Linked DNA regions of Homo sapiens: region 2 is linked to region 1. Evidence: fine-mapped expression QTL. A gene starts in region 1. The other region holds a variant in brackets. All regions are shown on one strand. Distances are from middle to middle.

Region 1 (9,062 bases):
AGGGAGACCTCAGCCCCCAGCAGAGGAGGAGCTGTGCAGTGGGAAGCCCTTCGACGCCTTCACCGACCTCAAGAACGGTTCCCTCTTTGCCTTCCGAGGTGAATCCAGGGCAGGTACTGGGGATGCGGGTCTGCCCCAGGAGCGTCCCTGCTCTCACACCATCTCCTCCACTCTAGGGCAGTACTGCTATGAACTGGACGAAAAGGCAGTGAGGCCTGGGTACCCCAAGCTCATCCGAGATGTCTGGGGCATCGAGGGCCCCATCGATGCCGCCTTCACCCGCATCAACTGTCAGGGGAAGACCTACCTCTTCAAGGTGCCAGGGGCTGTGGGCCAGGGTAGAAAGCATCTAGGGAGGGTTTGAGAGCTATTGCTCCCAGGGACAGGGTGGACAGGGAAGCTGGACCCAGGGCCCTGCAGGACCTGGTGGGAGCTCTGTGAGCACAGGGCAGCCCCAAGACTCCAGGTCCTGGGCAGTGAACCTGGACCTGGGAACGGCTGCCTTAGGGCAAGGGACTCTGCCTCTGTGCCCAGCCAGCGGCCTCCATACCCCTTTTCACTTTCCCCACCTCTTAGGGTAGTCAGTACTGGCGCTTTGAGGATGGTGTCCTGGACCCTGATTACCCCCGAAATATCTCTGACGGCTTCGATGGCATCCCGGACAACGTGGATGCAGCCTTGGCCCTCCCTGCCCATAGCTACAGTGGCCGGGAGCGGGTCTACTTCTTCAAGGGTACTCAGGGGGTGGTGGGAGACTGAGCAGGCAGTGGAGCAGTCTTGGATTCCTTTCACATTTCACTGGGGACAGGCCTCAGCATGTGCCCACCCCTGACCCCCACCTCATGCTGGGAGATCCTAACTTCAACAGCCTCTGGGATCTCCAGTCTTGCCCTGGCCCAGCCCTCCTAATGCCCACCACCCTGCTCCTCAGGGAAACAGTACTGGGAGTACCAGTTCCAGCACCAGCCCAGTCAGGAGGAGTGTGAAGGCAGCTCCCTGTCGGCTGTGTTTGAACACTTTGCCATGATGCAGCGGGACAGCTGGGAGGACATCTTCGAGCTTCTCTTCTGGGGCAGAACCTCTGGTATGGAGAGAGGGCAAGTCTTGCTTCTCCCTCAAAAGGGCTGAAACCCCTTGGTATTGGTAGAGCCAGGCCGGCTGGAGGGGGCTGTGGTTGTGGAGCTATCGATCAAAGTCTGTTTGCTCAGGCCAGACTTTGCTTCTGTTGACCTTTTGGGGAAAGCTCAGCTCTACCTGGACCCCACACCTTGGACTTTGCCTAGCACAGCTGAGAGCACAGCCAGCAGAGGGAGGGGCTGTGGCTGAGGAGTTTAGGGGGCCTGGGGGGGTGGGGTCGAGACACCAGTGATATGGTGGAGGGAAAGCACAGGGGGAAGGGAATTGGACTGAGAGTCAAAGGCCTGGCTCTGCCATTCGCTGCTGTGTGTCTTTGGGCAAGGTGCAGCAGATGAACTCTAATGGCCCCGCTGGAAGGGGCAAGATTCGGACCCCCAAGACCTCTCATTCACCCCTTCCCTGCCACAGCTGGTACCAGACAGCCCCAGTTCATTAGCCGGGACTGGCACGGTGTGCCAGGGCAAGTGGACGCAGCCATGGCTGGCCGCATCTACATCTCAGGCATGGCACCCCGCCCCTCCTTGGCCAAGAAACAAAGGTTTAGGCATCGCAACCGCAAAGGCTACCGTTCACAACGAGGCCACAGCCGTGGCCGCAACCAGAACTCCCGCCGGCCATCCCGCGCCACGTGGCTGTCCTTGTTCTCCAGTGAGGAGAGCAACTTGGGAGCCAACAACTATGATGACTACAGGATGGACTGGCTTGTGCCTGCCACCTGTGAACCCATCCAGAGTGTCTTCTTCTTCTCTGGAGGTAGGAGCCGCTGCCACCCCTGAAGCTGGTCTAGCTTGGGTTTTCCTTGCTGTCCCTGGTGCACAAGGGCTGAACGCAGCCTGCAAGTAGTGACCACAGAAAGCCAGGCCAGAAGTCCTTAGCTGCATCATGGATGTTCACTTTCCCTTCTGGGAGAGACCCTAGACTTCTCAAGGGAAGAGTGGGCAGGGCCAGGCTGGGCCTCACGCATCCTCTGCTTTCCTCTCTTCCAGACAAGTACTACCGAGTCAATCTTCGCACACGGCGAGTGGACACTGTGGACCCTCCCTACCCACGCTCCATCGCTCAGTACTGGCTGGGCTGCCCAGCTCCTGGCCATCTGTAGGAGTCAGAGCCCACATGGCCGGGCCCTCTGTAGCTCCCTCCTCCCATCTCCTTCCCCCAGCCCAATAAAGGTCCCTTAGCCCCGAGTTTAAAATTATTGTTCTGACTGGGGTAGACACATCCCTGTCTGGGTAAAGGAGAGGAAGCTGGACTGTCAGAATGGGTTGGTGAGGGGGACAGAGAAGGGACAGAGAAGGGCCTCGCCGTGTCCAACCCATGTTGGGCTCAGGACCTCTCTGTGCTCAGGACCTCTCTGTGAACCGGTTTGGGGCTGGGGAAGGCCTCCTGAGAGCTACCCTTCCTCTTGAGCTAAGCAGCCCCCAGCAACCCACCAGCAGCTAAGCAGACACTTGAACTCCTCTGATGATGACAAAGTTACCAGGCCAGCCTCCGTGGGTGAGGCTTGCTTTGCCCCTTGGAGTTGACTAGGGTCTTGGAGGAGAGAGAAGGGGCAAGAGTTGGTGGGGTTCTGGCTCAGCTTTTTTGTCCATCCTGATCTGAAATCCTAGTAGCTCTGACTCCTGAGCACTTGGGGAACCAGTCACTGTGCTTCCCCAAACCCACCCCTAGGGTGAGCCTTTCTTGAGGTCTCTGTCTAGGGTCTAGGATGGGGAGCAGCAAGACCAGGAGAGATAGTGAAGGGCAGAAACTGAAAGGAAATTCAAAAGCACACACTTCTTGTGGAAAAGTGGCCCAGGAGCCCAGGAGTTTGAAGCTGCAGTGAGCTATTATTGTACCACTGCACTCCAACCTGGGGAATAGAGTGAGACTCTATCTCTAAAAACAGAACAAAATAAAAAAGGGGGGGAATTTTTGTCTGGGCATGGTGGCTCATGCCTGTAATTCCAGCACTTTGGGAAGCCAAGGTGGGAGGATTGCTGGAATCCCGAAGTTTGAGACCAGCCTAGGCAATATAGCAAGACACCATCTCTACAAAAATAAATAAGTTAGCTGGGCAACTTATGGGTGGTGTGTGCCTGTAGTCCCAGCTATTTAGGAGGCTGAGGTGGGAGGATTGCTTGAGCTTGGGAGGTTGAGGCTGCAGTGAGCAGAAATCACACCACTGTACTCCAGCCTGGGCAACAGAGTGAGAAAAAGAAAATTTAGGCCAGGCACGGTGGTTCATGCCTGTGGTCCCAGCACTTTGGGAAACCAAGGCCCGTGGATCATGAGGTTAGGAGTTCGAGACCAGCCTGGCCAACATGGTGAAACCCCGTCTCTACTAAAAATACAAAAAATTAGCCGGGTGTGGTGGCAGGCGCCTGTAACCCCAGCTACTCCGGAGGAAGAGGCAGGAGGTGGAGTTGCTTGAACTCGGGAGGTGGAGGTTGCAGTGAGCCAAGATCACGCCACTGCACTCCAGCCTGGGTGACAAAGCAAGACTCCATCTTGAAAAAAAAAGAAAAAAGAAAAAAATTTTCAAAATTTAAGAAAAAGTGGCTCAGAATATATCCAAGGAAGAGAATACTGTACACATAAACATCTTTATCATCTTTCTTAGAACCCCTCAACTGCACCTGTGGAACCTCCTCTGGTTCCAGGTTCCGAACCCCAGGAAGTCCATCTGGCTCTTGAGGGGCCAGAGAGAGAAAGGGTTAGATGAGGCAAAGCTCTAAAGCAGACCTGAGGGCAATCTGGTGGTGACATCTGTTCCCCAGTCCTGCTGACAGCGGCTGGCTCCCATTCATCCCGTTGACACCCTACCATCCTTCTCATCCTGTCCCACTTCACCAGCCCAGTCCCCAGTTGTGGGAGAGGACTCCACTCCCTCTCCCCTGAAGGTAGCCAGGTTCAGAGCACTAAGGGCTCCAGAAGGGGCAGCCAGTGCCTGGGAGCACTGGAGAGATGGTTTTCTTTGGCTGCCTGGAAGGACCCCTGGGAGGATTTTCATGAAGTATAGGATTTCAGGCACAGACTGCCAGTTTGAGGTTTGAGAAGGGATGCTGGGTCCAGCTTCCTTTGCGAGGCCTTGGAGGGGCAGGGGGTATACAATTTGCCCCACCCATACCCTCATAAGCCCAACCCGGCCTCCAGCCTCCCTTCTTCCCCACCGAGACTTCTCTGCCTTGCTTGAGCTGGACTCTAAACCTCTCCACTCCTGAAGGCGGGGCCAGCCACCCTGAGCATGATAAAACCCAAATGGGGGGGTCTGGTGTGGGCACAGCCCTGGCATGGCCCTCTGGCACGGCCCTCTGGCACCTTACCCTTTGCCAGCTCCATGCCCAGCCCTGTGGATGCATCCTCAGCAGGTGATCTGATGGGGGAAGTGTGGGCAGGGTGAGAACGCAGGCCATGGTAGGATGAGGACGGTTGGAGAGGGGTGGGAGTAGGGACTTCGGGGTTGATTGAGGGCTTTGAGGCTGGGTGGAGGCTCTTGCAGGGAGTCCCAGCTTGACCCCCACCATGGCCTGCAGACGGTGGCAGCGGGTTGGGTTCCCACCGGAGAAAGCGGACCACCTTCAGCAAAGGGCAGCTACTGGAGCTGGAGAGGGCGTTTGCAGCATGGCCCTACCCCAACATCAGCACCCATGAGCACCTGGCCTGGGTCACTTGCCTTCCTGAGGCCAAGGTACAGGTGAGCTGTGACCCCTTCTCACACAGCCAACATCTAGGCTTGGCCCACAGCCCCTTCGCTGGGTAGCCTGCCTTCAGGTTGTTTCCCCTGTCCCTGGGTGGAGGGGATGCTGGGGCCAGAACAGACCCCTTCTTCTTTCCTAGCAGGTGTGGTTCCAGAAGCGCTGGGCCAAAATAATCAAGAACAGGAAGTCAGGAATTCTAAGCCCTGGGTCTGAGTGCCCCCAGAGCTCCTGTTCTCTTCCAGACACCCTCCAGCAGCCCTGGGATCCCCAAATGCCAGGCCAACCTCCACCCTCCAGCGGCACACCTCAGCGCACCTCAGTGTGTCGACATAGCTCCTGTCCAGCTCCTGGCTTGAGTCCACGGCAGGGCTGGGAAGGGGCTAAAGCTGTAGCCCCATGGGGATCAGCTGGGGCTTCAGAGGTCCACCCTTCTTTAGAGCGAGCTACTCCCCAGACTTCACTAGGCAGCCTGTCTGACCTCATCTATGCCTTGGCCATTGTCGTCAATGTGGACCACTCCTAGTCTTTGTCCAGAACTTGCAAGGCCCCTCCTCTGACTCCTGTGGCCCACCCTGCCCCTCCTGGGATTGAACACATCAGAAGTGGATTCCCTGGCCCCACTTTTTATGCAAAGGGATTCCCTACGGGAAAGGAGTTTAGCTCAGGCATCCCTCCCTTCCACTGGCCTCCAGGCCAGCCTAGATGCAGGTCCTAAGCAGACTGGGGCCTGGCTCCTGCCACCCCACACCCTGACCCCTTTGGGGCATATGCTCATTGTTGTGGCAGGTGGTACCTTCAGAAGGATGAGATGAGGGTCATGTTTTCCTCCACTCTTGCCAGGCCTGGTCCCCAGTTCTCACCAGCTGATGGCCTCCTCCTTCTGAAGGGGCAGGCTCCTGTCTCCTGAGGTCTCTCCAGGCCATTACCTTGCTAACTGCTAAGTGAGGTAGGAGAGGAGAGTGCTGCTCCTCATCTAGACTGCTGGAGAGCCAACTTCTTTATGGGTCAGGGCCCCCTCTCTTGACCATCGACCACCTGGACAAATTAATCAGAACTACGGATGTGAAGAGGGAGTGGCATTAAAGTAATGAAGCAAAGATAGGAAGCTGGGGCTTATGTTGATTTAATTTTCACAAAGATCAGATTGGATGCCCTCTGATGTGGGGCTGTGGAGACAACCTGACAGATCTGGGATGGAGGCAGGTATAGCAGCATTGGGTTTTGGTATCACCATCACCTGTAATACCAACTAATCTCCAAATAAAACCCAAACTCTGTACCTTAATCTGGATTGTTGTGCTCTGCAAACGAACGGGGACGAGGGCCGTTTGCCATGGAAATTTATCTCCATCACCTAATCCCTAAATAGGGCCAGGTTCCACACAGATACCTCTTGGTGGGAGGTATTACCCAGGCTTCAGCTGGGATTAGAGGGATAGTTAATTGAAGGGTTTAGGACTCTGACTGACAAGACCCTGGGGAGATGAGAGCCTCTGCTAGCACCCCCAGCTCCTGGTCCCACTGAATCTAGGACATTCCAGTCACCTCCACCTCTGGAGCTGCTCTGCTTTGGAGAGAAAACCATGGTGTTTGCGGTCTGCACTGGATTCAAATCCTGACTTTGCGATGTAACTGTGGCAACTCTGGAACTCTATGTGACTAAAAAATGGGGATACTTATTTGCTCTCTGTTTGGGGTATAAGAAATAATGTAGGTAAAGGGCTTTACATGGTGTGTAACACATCGTAAAAACTCAGTAAACGCTAGTTCCCTCTCCAGACAGGCCCTAAGAAACTGGGAAGGCCCTAAACTTCTTGTTCTTCCCACCTCCTGCCAAGCAGTCCCTGGACCCAGAGTGCATTACAGAAAGCATGGCACAGTGAGGCAGGAGTGGCTAGCAGATGAGAGAGCTCCCTTCTATATGCTGAGAACTGGAGGATAGGGCATTTGGTTCTCCCCTCCCAGTGCCCCCTGCTTTTTCATTGAGACAAGGTCTCACTCTGTCATCCAGGCTAGAGTGCAATAGCATGATCTTGGCTTACTCAGCTTACTGCAACCTCTGCCTCCCAGGCTCAAGTGATCCTCCCACCTTAGCCTCCTGAGTAGCTGGGACTACAGGCGTGCGCTACCATGTCAGCTAATTTCTGCGTTTTTTTGTAGAGATGGGCTTTTGCCATGTTGCCCAGGCTGGTCTCAAACTCCTGAACTCAAGCATCCTCCCACCTTGGTCTCCCAAAGTGCTGGGATTACAGGCATGTACCACCACGCCTGGCTAATTTTTTTGTATTTTTAGTAAAGATGGGGTTTCGCTATATTGGCCATGCTGGTCTTAAACTCCCAACCTCAAGTGATCCGCCTGCCTCAGCCTCCCAAAATGCTACGATTACAGGTGTGAGCCACCTCACCTGGCCCAGTGTAGCTTTTTAACACAAATTTTATATAGCTCAGGTTACTGGAAACACTGTAAAATGCCACCTACTTTTTCTTTTCACAGCTGACACTTCTCCCAACTAACAGAAACTGGCAAACATTGTAGAGGAAGTGTCCACTGAGTGAATGAGTATATAATTTATGAAAACAGAAAAGTGCTTTGGAAAAAAAAAAAAAGACAACAGGAGTACATACAGTGAACCAAAAAGAGTGTACCAGGAGGAGCAGACCCTGAACAGTTAGAACTATGGAAATCGCTATGCTTTGTGTTGTCACAGGAGTTAAAATAGGAATACCCTGCATACAATAAATATTTATTGGATAAATAACTAAGCCTGATACCCTTTTCAATGCGTTATACAGACTCTATCATCACACCACTAATCTAAGTTCTCAGAAGTTAAACATTACAAGACTTCAGAACAACATAGGCGTCTTTGGCTCCATTTAACAGAAGAAGGACCATAGTGATCATTTAATCTCTATGAGTCTGTCTTATCTTCTGGAAAAGGGGCCTAACACCATTTCCTTTTGCAAAAAGGTAGCTGCCTTGCTTCCAGTTCTACCATCCTCTAGCAACCCATCTTTCTCTTATTTGATGTCTCTGATCAGCTCCTCTTCCAGCACAAACTGGAGAAAGGGGATCCTTTCTGTTTTCTTGGAGGCTTCTGAACTCAATTACAGGTCTGCATTAAAAATGTATGGAGAAAGCTGGTGATCAGTTTGTACATATGGACAAGTTCAAGGCAGTATGGTCTACTTCTGGGAAGGCCTGGATTCCATTTGCTCCTGATGGAAAAACCCTAGTCCCAGCAGTGTTTAGAATGAACTGGAGAAGGCAGATGGGTACCAGATTCAGGAAGAGGTACTGATAGACCAAGACCAGTTCTTTCTGTTTTAAAGATGTGTTATCTCAATCTCCTCCAATGCTCCCTTTGGAAATTCACAGAAGATTAGGGCTCCCCACAGAAACAGCAGCTGGCCTGGGCTGGTCTTCTGACTAACTGGAGCTGAATACAAAAAGTCTGATGGGTTGACTGAGTCGGTGACTGCCAATTGGAGCCTGAAGCCCCCAAAGTCTTCTCTAGACTTGATGATGAAGCACCAGTTACAGTTCTCCCAGCTCGCCTTCCATTGCCCGCACCATGACATACAGCTCGGCCAGACCCACCACAGAGGCGACGATCAATGCAGCTAGCACCCGCTGGAGATGGGGAGAACCAGGCTTAAGGGATGCAGGCCAACAACCAGCTCTGTACCCCAGCAACTTTAATGAGGATGGAGAGCCCCCCAACCACCCTCTAAGTTGGGGGAGGGGAAGAAAAGAGAATGTGGCTTCTCCTGGGGTTATTACCTAACCTCCCGTGACTGCTGGAAAGCTCTAATGCTCCCCTTATTAATGGCATAAATATCTGTTCAATACCTAACCTGTGCAAGGCACTTTCACATACGTCCTCCCTTACCCACTAACACCCCCACCAGGGGCACCCTGCCCTGCCCAGTGCCTACTCACCGAGGCCATTTCTGTGAAGATATATTGGCTTCCAAGGTAAGTGCAGACGAAGGCAGCAACCACCGTGACAATGAAATTGAAGATGGTGATGACCAGAGCCTTCAATGATCTCACTTTGGGGAGGAGCCAGAGAGGGCACCTTTAGTTCAACATTCTCTAGGAGGTGCTCTTATCTCATGGCTCCCCCACCAACTGGGTTTCAGTCAAACAACAAGCCTGAGTGTCATGACCCATCTCAGGAAAAGGTTTTAGAAGCCTGATCTCCTAGTACCTCACCTTGCTTTCCCAGGTCGCTGAGAGTCCCA
Region 2 (9,062 bases), 360 kb before region 1:
TTTTTTTGTATTTTTAGTAGAGACGGGGTTTCCCCGTGTTAAACAGGATGGTCTCGATCTCCTGACCTCATGATCCGCCCGCCTCGGCGTTGGCCTCCCAAAGTGCTGAGATTACAGGCATGAGCCACCGTGCCCAGCCAACAACCCCTCTCCTTTTATGTATGGAACAGGGCACTGGGACCAGAGAGGACAAGGGGCTAGCCGGGGTCAGATAATTGGGACCAGAACTCTAACCCTTGGCCATGCCCATTCCAAGGAGGGAAGCCAGGAGATCTGTGTCTGCCTGTCCCAGAGGTAAGAGGCCCTCCAGCCAGGCCACTGTAAGGAGGCTGGCCCACCTGGTGCATATTCCATGGCGATCATAAGGGCTTTGTCTTCCAGGAAGTTCTCGTAGTACTCAATGACATTGGGGTGGTTGAGCAGCTTGAGGACCTGGCACTCATTCTGGGCTGCCTGCCGCTCTTCCTTGGTCATCTGTTCCACTGGAATCTGCTTGATGATCACCAGCTTCTGGTCAGCCTTTCGCAGGCACAGGTGCACAATCCTAGGGATACGGAGGACAGGGACAGGTTACCAGCTAAGCCTCCAGCCACATATCAGGCAGGGCGGTGCAGCCTAGTGACTGATGTCTCTTGGAAGAGGGTTCTAGACTGAGAGGTCATCTAACCAAGCGCACAGAACACTGAACTTGGGAACAGGGAGAACTGATTACAAGCTGTGTGGGACTTCAGTTTCACCACAGGCACTGTGAGGTAAAGTTAGTCTTGATCTCTAAGTTCCCACAGACTGCCTGGGTTCAAATCTGGGTGCCTCCTCTTACTAGTTATCTGGTTTGATACATTATGTGACATCATTGTCTGGAAAATGAAATGGGCCTCCCAGGGTTGTTGAGAGGATGGAATGAGAAAATGCATGTAAGGCACTGAGTGCAGTGACCAGCACAAAGAAAACGCTCAATGAATAGAAGCCATTCATATTATTTTATTTTAATTCTGTGGTTAGTCTCCATAAAAGCAGGGACTACAACATTCTTGTTCACCACAATAACCCCAGTGCATAGCCCAATATTTAGCACACAATAGGCAGTCAATAAGTATTTGTTGAATGAGTGGACTATAAGCTGATCTAAGTCTCAAATTTTTACCTCCAGATCAGGCTTCTCTTCTGAACCCTAGACTCAGATATCCACTTGAATGGCTCACAGTCATCCTAAATTTTAACAAATTCAAAATAAAACTCTTGATTCCTGCCTCCAAACCTTTCCTTGCTCAGTCTCTTCCATCTCAGTAAATGCTACCATCATCCTCCAGTTATTAAAATCAGAAACTGCTAAAATCAGAAACCTGAGGCAGGGCCAAGTGGCTAAGGCCTGTGATCTCAGCACTTTGGGAGGCCAAGGCAGGTAGATCACTTGAGTCCAGGCGTTCAAGACCAGCCTGAGCAACATGGTGAAACCCACTCTCGCAAAAAAAAAAAAAAAAAAAAATTAGCTGAGCATGGTGGCAAGCCTCTGTGGTCCCAGCTGCTCTGGAGGATGAGGTGGGAGGATCACCTGAGCCTAGGACATTGAAGATACAGTTAGCCATGATTGCGCCACTGCACTCCAGCCTGGGTGACCAAGTGAGATGGTCTCAAAACAAAACAACAAAAAAACAGACACTTGAAAATCAGCCTAGGCCGGGCGAAATGGCTCACACTTGTAATACTAACACTTTGGGAGGCCGAGGTGGGTGGAGCATTTGAGGTCAGGAATTTGAGAACAACCTGGCCAAAATGGTGAAACCCCATCTCCACCCAAAATACAAAAATTAGCTGGGTGTGGTGGCAGGCGCCTGTAATCCCAGCTACTCGGGAGGCTGAGGCAGCAGAATGGCCTGAACCTGGGAGGTGGAGCTTGCTGTGAGCCGAGATGGCGCCACTGCACTCCAGCCTGGGCGACAGAGTGAGACTCCACCTCAAAAAAAAAAAAAAAAAAAAAAAAGAAAAGAAAAAAGAAAATCGCCCTAGAATCTTTCCTCCATTTCACACAAGCAAATCCTATTTCTACCTCTGCAATACTGTAAATCCATCCAATTCTCTGTGCCCTCTCTACAGCCCTTGCCCTATAGTCATCATAATTTCTCGCCTAAAATACTGTATAACTCTCCAAAATGGTCCCTTTCACTCCTGTCACCCTCAAATCTAAATTCTACATGAACCAGAATGACATTTATTTTTTATTTATTTTTCTTTTTTTTATAGATATGGGTCTCACTATGTTGGCCAGGTTGGTCTTGAACTCGTGGCCTCAAGATATGCTCCCACCTCGGCCTCCCAAAGTGCTGGGATTATGGGCATGAGCCACCATGCCCAGCCCCAGAATGCAATTTAAAAATCTTACTATCCTGGCTAACACGATGAAACCCCGTCTCTACTAAAAATACAAAAAATTAGCTAGGCATGCTGGTGGGTGCCTGTAGTCCCAGCTACTCGGGAGACTGAGGCAGTAGAATGGCGTGAACCCGTGAGGCGGAGCTTGCAGTGAGCCTAGATTGCGCCACTGCAGTCCAGCCTAGAAGATAGAGCAAGACTCCGTCTCAAAAAAAAAAAAAAAAAAAAAAAAAAAAAAAAAAAAAAAATTGGGGCCAGGCGCGGTGGCTCACGCCTGTAATCCCAGGCCTTTGGGAGACTGAGGCAGGCGGATCACGAGGTCAGCAGATCGAGACCATACTGGCTAACATGGTGAAACCCCGTCTCTACTAAAAAATACAAAAAAATTAGCCGGGAGTGGTGGCGGGCGCCTGTAGTTCCAGCTGCTAGGGAGGCTGAGGCAGAAGAATGGCGTGAACCTGGGAGGCGGAGCTTGCAATGAGCCGAGATGGTGCCACTGCACTCTAGTCTGGGTGACAGAGCGAGACTCTGTCTCAGAAAAAAAAAAAGAAAGAAAGAAAGACAAAATATAGAGGAATGGTCTGATAAGATTTTTTATTTTTCTATTTTTTTTATTTTTGAGAAGGAGTCTCACTCTGTTGCCAGGCGGGAGTGGAGCGGCGCGATCTCGGCTCACTACATCCTCCGCCTCCCAGGTTCAAGCAATTCTCCTCCCTCAGCCTCCCGAGTAGCTGGGACTACAGGCGCGTGCCACCCACGCCCAGCTAATTTTTTTATTTTTAGTAGAGACGGGGTTTTACCATGTTGGCCGGGATGGTCTCGATCTCTTGACCTCGTGACCTGCCCGCCTCGGCCTCCCAAAGTGCTGGGATTACAGGCATGACCCCCACGCCCGGCCTTTTTGTTTTTATTTTTTTTTGAGACAGAGTTTCACTCTTGTTGCCTAGGCTGTAGTGCAATGGCACAGTCTCAGCTCACTGCAACCTCTGCCTTCCAGGTTCAAGCGATTCTCCTGACTCAGCCTCCCAAGTAGCCGTCACAACACCCAGCTAAATTTTGTATTTTTAGTAGAGATGGGGTTTCACTGTGTTGGCCAGGCTGGTCTCGAACTCTTGACCTCAGGTGATCCAACCACCTCGGCCTCCCAAAGTGCTAGAATTACAGGCCTGAGCCACCGTGCCCGGCCCCTTCTTTCTTTCCTTTCTTTCTTTTTTTCTTGTATTATTTCTTTTTTTAGATAGGTTCTCACTCTGTCAACCAAGTTGAAGTGCAGGGGTCTCATCTCAGCTTACTACAGCCTCCACCTCCCATGCTCAAGTGATCCTCCCACCTCAGCCTCCTGAGTAGTTGGGACTACAGGCACATGCCAATGCCACCATACCTGGCTAATTTTTTTATTTTTTTGTAGACAGGGGGACTCATTGTGTTGCCCAGGCTGGTCTCTAACTCCTAAGCTCAAGCAATTGCCCATCTCGGCCTCCCAAAGTGCTAGGATTATAGGCGTGAGCCACTGCACCCTGCCCCTTTTCAGAAAACTCTGCCAAGTCTCAGGATCACTCTTCCTCTTTAAAACCCTTCCTGGTGGCTGGGAGTGGTGGCTCACGCCTGTAATCCCAACACTTTGGGAGGCAGAAGCAGGTGGATCGCCTGAGGTCAGGAGTTCGAGACCAGGCTGGCCAACATGGTGAAACCCTGTCTCTACTAAAAATACAAAAAATTAGCCAGGCATGGTGGCACACGCCTGTAAGGCTGAGGCAGGAGAATTGCTTGAACCCGGGAGGCGGGGCTTGCAGTAAGCCAAGATGGTGCCATTGCACTCCAGCCTGGGCAACAGAGGAGACTCTGTCTCACAAAAAAAAAAAAAAAAAAAAAAAAAAAATTAGCCGGTTGTTGTGGCGTGTGCCTGTAGTCCCAGCTACTCAGGATGCTGAGGCAGGAGAATTGCGTGAACCCGGGAGGCGGAGATTGCAGTGAACTGAGATTGCCACTACACTCCAGCCTGAGCGACAGTGCAAGACTCCGTCTCAAAAACAAAAACAAAAACAAAACAAAACCGTTTGTGGCAAATGAACCTTTTATCTCAGGTTATCAGGCCATAATCTAGTCCCCGCCCTCGACAATTACATTTTATACCATTCTCTACCTTGCCCACTACATTCCAACTATTACTAGTCTTTCTCGGTTTCTTGAATGCTCTGTTTTCCCATGTGAGACATTTCACATACGCTATTTCCTTTGCCTGAAAAGTTCTCCCTTCACCTGCAGACTACTGGTCCTCATTCCTCAAGTCTTGGCCTTAAATCTCACTTCTGGCCTGTCGCGGTGGCTCACGCCTGTAATTCCAGCACTTAGGGAGGCCGGCGCGGGCGGATCACCTGAGGTCAGGAATTTGAGACCAGCCTGGCCAACATGGCGAAACCCCATCTGTACTAAAAACACAAAAAATATTAGCTGGGCATGGTGGCGCGTGCCTGTAGTCCCAGCTACTCGGGAGGCTGAGGCAGGAGAAGCGCTTGAACCAGGGAGGCAGAGGTTGCAGTGAGCTGAGATAGTGCCACTGCACTCGAGATCGCGCCACTGCGACAGAGTGAGACTGCCTCAAAAAAAAAAAAAAAAAAAAAA[AAT/T]CCAAAAAATTTAGCCGGGCATGGTGGCGCACGCCTGTAATCCTAGCTACTCGGGAGGCTGAGGCACAACGATTGCTTGAACCCAGGAGGTGGTGGTTGCAGTGTGCCAAGATCGTGCCACTGAACTCCAGCCGGGGTGACAGAGGGAGACTCTGTCTTAAAAATCAATCAAGCAAGCAAGCAATCTCCCTTCTCAGAGAATTCTTCCTTGACCATCTCATATAAGTATTCTCACTGGTAATGTACTCTATCCTCACAACCTGCTAATAACACTTCATAACTGCTATAACTTCTTACTTCATAATGTTTTGTTTATTGTATAACTTTCCCACAGTCAGTAAGTTCCAAGAGGGAAAAGACCACGCCCGTTCCGGTTCTAACTATATACCCAGCGGCCAAAGCCTGACATACATAGCTGGCACTCAGTATTTGTTGAACGAATGAATAAAGAAGCTAACATAACTCAGTGGGCGGAGCAATGGGCCTGTCAGGGGCGTGGCCTCCGTAGAGGCGGAGTCTCCCCGGGGGACTGGGACCGGAAGCTTGGGCGGGGCTTCCCAGAGTGGCGCTCACGCCTTGGGGCGGGATTAGGCGGGCGGCGACTTCGCGGGCGGAATTGGGGCTTATTTTCCCTATCCCCTAGCAGTTTCCTCCCCCAGAGCCCTGGCTCACCCGAAGGCACCTCTCCCCACCACTCGGATCCGCTCGTACTTCTCCATCTCATTTCTTAGAGTTTCACTTCCGTCCCCCACGCGGCGCGTGCGCGGACCCACCCACTCTGGGCCCCGCCCCTTCACGGCGAGCGGCTTGCGGGGCGGAGCCAGCGCCCTAGGTGTGGGTTCCGCCACGCGTCCGTATTTGTGGGCCTGCACCACACACCTCCCGCTGCGACACGCCGTCACTTTTCCCCTCACGACCCTGCCCCACGCAGTGTCCAAGAATAGGGCAAGAAAATAGGGCGCGCCCGCAATGGCGGGCACGGTACCCGCCCCTCCCACACATATACCCAGCCCTTGTAAAGCTTGCTAGACTAAAAGGATGTCGCGTTCCCGAGAGTTAAACCCCACAGGCCGGGAAGGGGTGGGAAGAGAAGATTGACCCCCTTCTTGCCCACGAGTGACGCTATTTCAGGAGAAAGCGGGTTCTCCTTGGCACGCAAACGATAAACACACCCAAAACGACCGAGACCAGCGCTCCTGGGAGAAGGCAGCAGGGTTGGTTTCGTGTTTGCCTGGGGAGGGACGGGGGAAATCCCAAGTCGTGCAAGTTGATTCACCTGAAGAGGACATGACACGGTCTCGGGCCGTCCCGACTAGTGAGCGCCGCGCTCGTCAGCACTCTCAACTCCCCTTTCACACACGCGCTGCAGGAGGGTAATCTGCCCTCAGTGCTCATCTTCCCATGGGGGAAGATGGGGGCGGTAGTGGGTCAGTACCTGAAAGCATCAAGGGGAGAAGGAAAGACCGCGGTTTCGCCGAAATGAGCTCAAGGCAAAAGCCTAGAGGCAGGGGGCTGGTTAGTGTGACCAGCTAGGCTCTTTACCGGAAGTGAGGTTAATTCCAGGTTCTCCCGGGCTCCTGCTCTGCGGGAGCTCTAGAAAAACTCAGTATTCGGCCAGGCGCGGTGGCTCACGCCTGTAATTCCAGCACTTTGGGGAGGCCGAGGCGGGCGGATCACCTGAGGTCAGGAGTTTGAGACCAACCTGGCCAACATGGTAAAACCTCGTCTCTACTAAAAATACAAAAATTAGTTGGGCACGGTGGCGCGCGCTTGTAATCCCAGCTACTCGGGAGGCTGAGGCAGGAGAATCGCTTGAATCTGGGAGGCGGAGGTTGCAGTGAGCCGAGATCGTGCCATTGCACTCCAGCCTGGGCGATAGAGTGAGCCTCCATCTCAAAAAAAAAAAAAGAAAGAAAGAAAACATCAGTATTCAGGAGGAGGATGGTCACTAGCTGAAGGTTAGCGTCCCTGTATCAGAGTGGGCAAGGGGTGTGAGGAAAGGGGCGTTTTATCTTCTGCCCCTGTCCTGGCTCTCGCAAGGGTATCCAAACCCACCCACGTGGAATGACTGCTGGAAGGGCGCTGGCTCAGGCCGGTGTCGGCCGGCGGACAGAGCAGCTCTGTGAGCCAAGGGGAGGGGCGGGAAAGCCGCTCACCCAGGACACCCGTGTTCTCACCTAGAAACCGACTGGGCTTTGGTTGACTTAAGAGTCCCACAGGGGTTAATGTGTAACCTTGGAGCCATAGGGGAGGAAAACACTCAAACGGCTTGGTCCCTGGGTCCTTGCGCCTCAGGTTTTCTCGGCTTCTTCCTCCCGCCCGCAGCACCTTTCCCCTCCCCCGCTTCTTCCCGCCCCTCCTCTATTACTACCCTCTTCTCCCTCCCCGCTCTCATCTCCGCTTAACTTCCCTCGCTGGCTCTCAGCTGCTCCTCCTTTCGCCCAGAGTTTATACCTAAACTCTCCCCGAAAGCAGCTGCCTCGCTCGGAGGCGGGAGGGGGAGCCCGCGCCACAGTGAGGGCAGGCTGACACCTAGTGGCTAGGAGCCGCAACTGCTGCAAGCTACCGGCTTGGAGAGCGCGGGTCACTCCAGCTGTCCCGGCAAATCGGAGGTCTTGCTTGCCCAGCCTCCGGGGAGCCGGGCCGAGGGCCGGGACTGTCTGAGGGAGGACTGTGACAGCCGCCCGGCCCCAGGAGTTTAAGAGCCGGCGGGAAGAGGTGGCGATGGGTTACTCAGCAGTTCCCAAGTGCCCACCTCGCGGGCGCGGGAGGGACAGGTAAACACGGGACTCCGGCCAGAAGACTGCGAGTGGTGCGGTAGGGGCACTGGGTCTGCACGGAGACCACTGTCGGACGCGGGGCTCCGGAGCCCACCCCAGGACCAGGACTTAGGGGGCGTGGGCGTGTCGGGTCCCGTCCAGCTCTGCGCAGAAAGTAGAGGGCGGAGAGAGCTCTCGCGGTACCCGCCCAGGGCGGGGTAGCCGGTGGCCCGGGGAAAAGTGGGGACGCGGGTTAATGAGGCCAGGCGAGCGAGGGCAGCGGGGACTCCGTCGGCAGTCGGGAGGCGCCAGCGAGGGGTGTCTCGGCGACGACGCCCCCAGCACAGCTCCTAGTTACCCGAAGTCCGCGGGAGCCGGCCGGTGGCCGAGAGGCCACGGGGACACCCGGCTCGCGCGGCAGCAGCGCCTGAGGGGCGGGGGCAGGCGGACGGGGCGGGGGCAGGCGGGCGGGGCGGGGGCGCGGGCGGCTGGGGGCGGGGGCAGAGGCCTCGCAGGGAGGGCGAGGAGGAGCCAAGGGGCCTAGAGGGCTTCGCCAACTGTGTGGGGCTGGCGGCCGGCGGGAGAGGCGGCCGGCCTGGACTGGCCCGAGAGGGATCCCGGTTCCCAGAACAGACCTAGGAGGCGGCCTCGAGGGCGGACGGCAGGGAGGGCCAGCATGCCCCGACTGCTGCACCCCGCCCTGCCGCTGCTCCTGGGCGCCACGCTGACCTTCCGGGCGCTCCGGCGCGCGCTCTGTCGCCTGCCCCTACCCGTGCACGTGCGCGCCGACCCCCTGCGCACCTGGCGCTGGCACAACCTGCTCGTCTCCTTCGCTCACTCCATTGTGTCGGGGATCTGGGCACTGCTGTGGTGAGTGAGCGACTGTGGAAATGAGGTGGCCAGGGGATCCTGAGCGGGGAGCCGGGGCCGGCTCTTGTGTTACTACCCCCATCGCTCACTGGCGGGCTGAGGCCACGCAGTCTCACCTGATCCCGTTTGGTATCCTATCCAACCAAAAGCCGCAGTGGCCCCAGGGGAGGGGGATCGCCCCTGGGAAACTGGAGGCTCTTGGGTTTTGCCCAGCCACTCTTAGCTTCCCAGTCAGCCACTAGCGCGAGCCCAGGATCCCCCGGGGCTGCGAAGGGTAACCGAGAAGTTGATGGTCCTTGAGGGTGCCGAAATGCAGAGCCTCCTCTTCCCTCCTTTCCAGTGTATGGCAGACTCCTGACATGTTAGTGGAGATTGAGACGGCGTGGTCACTTTCTGGCTATTTGCTCGTTTGCTTCTCTGCGGGTAGGTCTTGCCCAGG

Alleles and levels. Positions count from the first base shown, and alleles are read on the strand shown. Sizes are in standard deviations (SD) of each study's normalised expression.
For the expression in monocytes after LPS of the gene that starts at base 4,406 in region 1, AAT is the low allele of the variant in region 2 and T is the other (large effect, 1.6 SD a copy in Fairfax 2014).

The links. PIP is the estimated chance that this variant, and not a neighbour inherited with it, causes the effect.
Region 2: its variant is fine-mapped to the expression of SEBOX in monocytes after LPS (Fairfax 2014, PIP 0.95).

The regions. Positions count from the first base shown.
Region 1 is chr17:28,360,543-28,369,604 of GRCh38, reverse strand. It overlaps SEBOX (SEBOX homeobox), which reads left to right and starts at 4,406. Exons shown (of 3, transcript NM_001080837.4): 1 at 4,406-4,484; 2 at 4,650-4,810; 3 at 4,957-6,099. The coding sequence starts at 4,454. The coding sequence ends at 5,337. VMA12 (vacuolar ATPase assembly factor VMA12) reads right to left here. Exons shown (of 6, transcript NM_152464.3): 4 at 9,034-9,062; 5 at 8,758-8,870; 6 at 5,922-8,448. The coding sequence ends at 8,353. VTN (vitronectin) reads left to right here. Exons shown (of 8, transcript NM_000638.4): 3 at 1-98; 4 at 177-316; 5 at 577-733; 6 at 932-1,084; 7 at 1,546-1,890; 8 at 2,124-2,321. The coding sequence ends at 2,236. MIR4723 (microRNA 4723) reads right to left here and starts at 8,951; the gene lies at 8,871-8,951.
Region 2 is chr17:28,725,465-28,734,526 of GRCh38, reverse strand. TLCD1 (TLC domain containing 1) reads left to right here and starts at 8,294. Exons shown (of 4, transcript NM_138463.4): 1 at 8,294-8,623; 2 at 8,964-9,046. The coding sequence starts at 8,430. It overlaps NEK8 (NIMA related kinase 8), which reads right to left and starts at 5,739. Exons shown (of 15, transcript NM_178170.3): 1 at 5,667-5,739; 2 at 339-544. The coding sequence starts at 5,713. RefSeq lists enhancers at 5,139-5,862, 5,896-6,335, 5,863-6,586, 7,311-8,034, 8,035-8,758 and 2 more and a silencer at 7,986-8,515. The variant AAT/T (reference allele first, on the strand shown) is at 4,993.